Homo sapiens: one gene and its partner. The protein of the gene in region 1 purifies or fractionates together with the protein of each later gene. This does not show direct contact. Each region holds a gene or a part of one and is shown in the gene's direction. Other genes may lie near its edges.

Region 1 (3,707 bases):
GCGCTCGGCCGCCTGCTTGCCGTGAGTGGTGGGCTGGCTGCGCCTCCCGTGGCTCGGGCAGGCTGGCCGTGCCATGCCGAGAATCCCGCAAATCATCGCGGCCGCCTGCCGCTATCAGACCCGGCCATCGTCCAGGCCACTGCGGCCCAGGGAATCCACTCTGGGCCTGCCAGGCGGAAGGGCAGGCCTACCGGCAGCCAGCAGGTCGTAAGGAAAAATGCGACCCAATTATTGGGGAAGAAGATAGGGAAGTCCCAAAGACCCCATCTGGATTGAAAATCAAAAAAATAGTTTGGGAGAGAAGGCACCACATTTCCAAAACTAATTTTTTAAAAGCACAAAAACTACCGACACCCACGCTGGGAGCAGCTAGAAGCACCGCTTCAGACTGCAACTCTTGGTGGCGAATTTTAAAGAGCGGCTGAATTTGGTCTTCGCTGTGTAGGACCTAGGGACTGCCATGGTAGTTTTCAGACCCAGAGTGGCTGGAAAAAAAAATCTTTTTAAGAAGCACGATGCACCCCTCCTTTAGTCGTTTTTGCCTTTACAAAATTTGGATTTTACAAAACCAAAAGTTTTTTGGGGGGGTTAACAAGTTCCATTCGGGAGAGAAACTCAAGATTTAAAAAAGAGGTAAATCAGGCGGTGAGTACGTGGGGGCGCGGAGGAGTGGTGGAATTTTCAATCCTGCTTGAGAGGGGATGCAGCCCCTCACATTTTCTAAAACAAAACCAATTCCGAAAGGGGGAAAAAAGTAGCCCCAAAGTAAAATCGTCCACAATGAATTTGAGCTACAGGCAGAGGAAATCGCACCCAATAATAGGACCCAATCTGAGAAAAAAGGGTGGGGGTGGAGAGCTCGGGCGGAGGGAGTTGTTAACTGCGGCGGCACAAAGGAATTAATGAGATTAACCAAGGCAATTAGGCCGCCCGCCCAGCTCGGCCGGCCCGCGGCCCGGCTGCCGAATGGAAAAGATTAGGTTAATTTCATTAATTCGCAATCCACAATCTCTTTTCAGGCCTTGTAACCCCCTCCCCTTGGCACCTCTCCCCCTCCCCCCAACCCTCTTCCCCCACCCAAAGGAAAAGAAAGGGCCAAATCTGGTTCTGTTTGTCATCTGCATATTACCAGGAACTAAATCCAGGATGACGTCGACTCAGTATAAAACCAACAAGAGGTTCAGCTGGTCTGAGCTCCGTCCTACCCGCGGGTTGAGTTCAGCGAACGCTGCGGCTAGGGGAGGGCGGGAGGAGGGAGAGCGGACGCAGGGGGCGGGGAGGGGCGCAGGGCTGCGCGCTCGCCGGCGCTCTCTTTCGGTTTGGTCGGCGGCTGGAGGAGAGTGGACCCCCCCACTTTAAGGCTCTGTCCTCGGCGCGTTCCCGCCGCCCCCCGGTCCCGACGCGGGGCTCGGGGATGCCCGCCAGCATGTTCAGCATCGACAACATCCTAGCCGCCCGGCCGCGCTGCAAGGACTCGGTGTTGCCGGTGGCGCACAGCGCGGCGGCTCCCGTCGTCTTCCCGGCCCTGCACGGGGACTCGCTCTACGGCGCCAGCGGCGGCGCCTCCTCGGACTATGGCGCCTTCTACCCGCGCCCCGTGGCCCCCGGCGGCGCGGGCCTCCCGGCCGCGGTCAGCGGCTCCCGCCTCGGCTACAACAACTACTTCTACGGGCAGCTGCACGTGCAGGCGGCGCCCGTGGGCCCGGCCTGCTGCGGGGCCGTGCCGCCGCTGGGCGCCCAGCAGTGCTCCTGCGTCCCGACGCCCCCAGGTAGGGTCGCGCTCGCTCCGGCCTCTGCCGCCCACTGCGGTCCTTAGCCCATGGAGCCGGTTGGTTAATTCACCTTCCTCAAACTTTGCTCCTCTTGCAACTCCCCCCTCCGCTTTTGCCGATCGGGCGCAGGAGTTTGCAAACTTCTTGCTGCAAACTTTTGGCCAGAGTTCGCGAAAACTGGAATTCAGTGCCTGCCCGGGGAAACTGGGTTTTGTTTTGTTTTGTTTTGTTTTGAATTCTCTTACTGGCTTTGGCGGGTGTGCGGATGGATGCTCTAACACGCCTCCTCCTTTTCCCTGCACCCCTGATTCCCGTGCACCCCCAATTCTCAGCATCCCCTTGCAGACGACTTCTAAGTGGAAGAGGGTCGGGGGCTGGCGGGCGTGCATGCGTGCGGTGGCGAGGGCGGGCGGCTGACCGTGCGCCCCACTCTGTCGCAGGCTACGAGGGCCCCGGTTCGGTGCTGGTGTCCCCGGTACCGCACCAGATGCTGCCCTACATGAACGTGGGCACGCTGTCGCGCACCGAGCTGCAGCTTCTCAACCAGCTGCACTGTCGGCGGAAGCGGCGGCACCGCACCATCTTCACTGACGAGCAGCTCGAAGCTCTCGAGAACCTCTTCCAGGAGACCAAGTACCCGGACGTGGGCACGCGCGAGCAGCTGGCCCGGAAAGTGCACCTCCGCGAGGAGAAAGTGGAGGTAGGCGCCGGGGCCTGCCGTGGGCGCCTAGCGGTCCTTCCCCGCGAGGTGGGGCCCCAGTCGGGTTTGCCCAGCCCTGCTTGGCTCTCCCCGCACTTTAAAAACATCCCGATGGCGGCCCGCAGGCTGCTGGAGGGCGCTTTAGGCCCAGGAAGTTGAATGAAAACGCGGAAGCGGGAGCGAGCGGCTCCCCTCCTTTTGTTGGCCTGCGCGGGGTGTCCCGCCGCCACACCAAGCTCCCCGGGTGCCCCGGGACTGGGGGAAGCGCGCCTTTGATCTGAACTGTTTTGTCCTCCGTTGCGCAACAGGTCTGGTTTAAGAACCGCCGCGCCAAATGGAGGCGGCAGAAGCGGTCCTCATCAGAGGAGTCGGAGAACGCGGAGAAGTGGAACAAGACGTCGTCGTCGAAGGCGTCACCGGAGAAGAGGGAAGAGGAAGGTAAAAGCGATTTGGACTCGGACAGCTGACGGCCGCGGGACACTTGCCCGTATTACTTACCTAACTCGAAGGACTTGCACAGACAGACGATGCTACTTTCTTGCACACGCGCTGCCTTGCGGGAGGGGGTCGAGAAAGAGGAACGAGGAGCTGTAAATAGTGTACAGAGCCGGGAGGGTCGGCGTCTGGGGTCAGGGCGCGCACAGCCCAGCAGCCCGAGGCCGCCCGCGACTAGCCCCCACCGTAGTATTTATAGTTAAATTAAGGGTGACAGTACAATAAAGTGATGGCGATGTAGACGGGCCACATTCTGTATTTCATACCCCCCGCCCCACCCACCCACCACCATCAGTCTGGAGCCAAGAAAAGAAGTCTATGTAGTCCGTAACCTCCGGAGGAAAAAACTGAGCAGCTATGATCTACCTAAACAAACAAACAAACAAGAAATGAAGCTCTGGGTAACAGTCACAGCATGGGTGTCCTGGTTTAAAAGGAAACCTTATGTCTAGGAAGGTTTGGAGAGTAGCATTGCTGGGCCAGAGCCGGGAGGAGGTACCATTGCAGTTGAGAGGGGCAGCCTGGGTCCCTGACTCCCCTCTGCCGAGGGCAGAAGGAGCACTTCTTCCCTCACTGATGAGGTGGGAGCTAGGGGAGTCCGGGAGCTCCCACGGAGCCCACTGCTCCAAGCTGCTCAGCCCTGCTTCTGAGAAACCTAAGGCGGCGGGTCCACGGGGGAATTAGGCAGCGGGCATGCCACCTCCCCCAGCGCTTTCCTGGAACTTCCACAGATGCTCCAG
Region 2 (3,500 bases), on another chromosome or scaffold:
AGTGACGAAAAGACAAGAGTACTTACGGTGCCCCTAGTTAGAGCCTTTGAAGTCTTGTTTTATGAAGAACTATACATTTTAATTCATAAGGAGAAAACCTTCTCTTTGTGTCCTTGGTGTTAAACAATCCCCCCAGTGACATCATGAATAACAGGCATTTGCAGAAGTGTGTTCACCTGAATTGTCACTTATAATAAATATGCATCTGGTGAGGACTCATGTTTCTCTTGAGCAGATGAGAATCCCAAGCAGCACATTCCCCTGGAGGAGTACGCTGCGAACCTAAAGAGCATGGTGCAGTACCTGAAGTCCGTGGACATCCCTGAGAATCGAGTCATTCTCATCACGCCGACCCCACTTTGTGAAACAGCCTGGGAAGAACAGTGCATCATACAAGGTAAACAAACCACAGCCAATCTCGGCAAATCTGGATAGGAATGCTGAGGGAGGAACTCTGATAGGACAGTGGTTTCCTGCCTGGGGCTTCTGTTTCTTAGGGGCTCGGTATGTCCATTTCAGTCTGTTTTCAATCCAAAATTATTAAATTATAGCTTCCATTATGTTATACCTGAGACCTTTTTTGACCTAGAAAAGGGATTCTGGCTTTGGATAGTCAGGAGGGAACCGCGGGCCTGGCATCTGCTGACCTTTACAGTTACCAGACTCCAGGGTGCACATGAAGGCCACTGAGATCTGTGTAGAGCTGTGGTGCTCGGCCTGCGGGGGCTGATGCTGATGTGCCTTGACTTGGAAGTCCACACCTGGGGCTTTTTACTGGTCCACAGAAGCTGGGGGTAGGAATGATCAGATAGGAGTCGCCAGCACTCCATATACTTGGGTTTCACATCCCTCAAGTGCTGTGTTTTCAATCCACCTTTGACTGAAAAACCTCTGCACATAAGTGGACCTTCACGGTTCAAACCTGTGTTGTTCAAGGGTCAGCTGTATGTTAATGTTGAAAATGTGCATTATGGAAGTTCTCTTTTTTTTTTTTTTTTGGAGATAGAGTCTGGCTCTGTCAGCCAGGCTGGAGTGCAGTGGCACGATCTCGGCTCACTGCAACCTTTGCCTCCTGGGCTCAAGCAATTCTGCCTCAGCCTCCTGAGTAGCTGGGATTATGGGTGTGCACCACCACGCCCGGCTAATTTTTGCATTTTTAGTAGAGACGGGTTTCACCATGTTGGCCAGGCTGGTCTCGAACTCCTGACCTCAGGTAATCTGCCCGACTCAGCCTCCCAAAGTGCTGGGATTACAGGCGTGAGCCACCGTTCCTGGACTGGAAGTTTTCTAAGCTGCCCAGAACTCAACATTCTAGGACAAATGACTGGCTTTGCAACACAGAACAGCTATTTCTCAAAGTGTGGTCTGACTCTGAGTTAACTGGGATTTTTAGGTAGATTTCTGGACCCATTTTCAGCACTCCAGATGTTTCTTACACACACCACAGCACACATACCACAACTTCATGGAAGGCTGTTATTGTCCCTACTTTACCAGTGGAGAAATGGAGTCTTAGAGAGGCTAAGTAACCGGCCCAAGATCACACAGCCAGCAACACAACCAGGAATCAAATCCAGCAAGTGTGACTTCACAGCTCAAGTCCTTACTGTTGTATGAGTTTACTGTTGAGTGGGGTTGTAGCTATGTCCCTTGCTCTCAAAGGGCCTGTCATCCTTAGAGAAGGATCCAATGCGTTCTCAAGTCACAAACAGCATATGCCAAGGGGTGCCACACACCGGAGGCACAGACAAACGGGGAGAAACCCCAGCCTGCGGGACGTGGTGACAGTAGGTTCTGGGCATCACATCAGGGCAGAGGGGCCCTATTGCTGTGCATGAGACACCAGAGTGTTCTGCAGGGAAGGGGAGGTGTTTAAGGCCCACAAAGCTCCCCTGGAGACAACTTCAGAGCCCCAGCTTGCTTCTGGGCCTGCAGCCCTAACTGCTTTGGGGGGCAGTGTCATCTTGGCTTTAACAAAAGGGGAAAAATGTTACATAGCATGGTCCACAGAAGCTGTTTAGACTTCTTTTTGTCTACTGTTTCCCAGGAAAATAATATATATGAAATTCTGAATGTTTAATTTCATTTCCCCTTTCTAGCCTTGAATGTAGCCCAATGCAGACTTTTTAAAAGGTCAGTGATGGGCAAAGCAGGTAGAGGAGGGGTCACATCTCAATAACTGGTCCCCTAGAAATTCAGCAGGTTATTTTTTGAGATGGTCTTGCTGTGTCACCCAGGCTGTGTAGGGCAGTGGATTACTCATAGCTCACTGCAGCCTCCACCTCTGGGCTCAGGTGATCTTCTTGCCTCAGCCTCCCAAGTAGCTGGAACCACAGGCATGTGCAACCATGCTCAGCTAATTTTTTAAATTTTTTTGTAGGGATGGGGTAGCTAGTTATAATCTAGGTGAATTTTATAAACAATTGATCCCAAGTATGAATCAAAGCTGGTGAATAGTTTCTTCGCTGTGATGTAGAGCCTGGGCCAGCATAGGTCCTCCTGTGGCCCGCATCCAGTTGCCCATATCCTCATGCTTTCTCTTTAATACCATTCTGTAGTCCGCCTCTCGCCAGCCCTCACTGTCCTGTTTGCAGCCTCCTGAGCCTTCTCCCCTAGCCCCAGCCCCACCTTCCAAACCAACCTAGCACAATCCCCAGATACTGCACTCCAGCCTTCCCTGGTGCAGCTCCCTGGGAGGATGAGGCAGCCTGCACTTGTGTTAGATACACTCAATCGTTCTGTGCTAGCTGCTTTGCTGGTGTTTAGTCTCTTAATCCTGCCAATATTCCTGCAACTAGGTAGGCACTGTCATCATAAGAATGCAGAAAGCTTCAGGACGGTTAAGCTGTTCAGGCACACCGCTATTTAGTGAAAATTGTAGGCATCAAAACGAAGGTCTCTTTGTCTAAAGCCGACAAATGATTTTGCTGTGTTGCGGTCCAGCTGTTACATGTAAGAAGCCAGCGGTGTCAGCGCAGCGTTCAGCTTCCATGGCCTGGCATTTCCTACTAGTGCAGCCCTTACCAGCCCCCAGCCCAGCTCCTGCAGCCGGCACTCTCCAAGCAGCCCAGCCCTCCTGGGCCTTTCCTGCCTCTCTGCCTCTGTTCAAGGTGTCCTCTAGAACATCCTCCCTGGCGCCTCAGAAGATTCCGGTTACCACTGAAGGCTCCTTCTTCCCACTGCACCTTGTCCTCTGCTGGGTAGAGCAGCACACCAGTAACCTGCAAGGCTCATCAACATATACCCTAAACCCCGGGGCTGGCCCAAGTGGGGTCAATATTTAATGGCATTTTGAAACTGTCTAGATGAGTGGAGCAGAACTTACACAAGGGCCAGCACTTGGGTTTACCAACTGCCACCTCTATTTCTTCTCTTCAATAGGTTGCAAACTAAATCGCCTGAACTCTGTTGTTGGTGAATATGCCAATGCGTGTTTACAAGTGGCCCAAGACTGTGGGACTGACGTACTTGACCTGTGGACCCTGATGCAGGACAGCCAG

The links.
Region 2: the proteins of GSC (region 1) and IAH1 purify together in Homo sapiens (affinity purification with mass spectrometry; one large-scale study listed by BioGRID and IntAct). This does not show direct contact.

The regions. Positions count from the first base shown.
Region 1 is NC_000014.9:94,767,723-94,771,429, reverse strand, and holds GSC (homeobox protein goosecoid), read left to right. Parts: upstream 1-1,316; 5' UTR 1,317-1,414; coding exon 1,415-1,769; intron 1,770-2,212; coding exon 2,213-2,472; intron 2,473-2,780; coding exon 2,781-2,939; 3' UTR 2,940-3,207; downstream 3,208-3,707. UniProt on the Homo sapiens protein: Regulates chordin (CHRD). May play a role in spatial programing within discrete embryonic fields or lineage compartments during organogenesis.
Region 2 is NC_000002.12:9,481,051-9,484,550, forward strand, and holds part of IAH1 (isoamyl acetate-hydrolyzing esterase 1 homolog), read left to right. Parts: intron 1-235; coding exon 236-397; intron 398-3,381; coding exon 3,382-3,500. UniProt on the Homo sapiens protein: Probable lipase.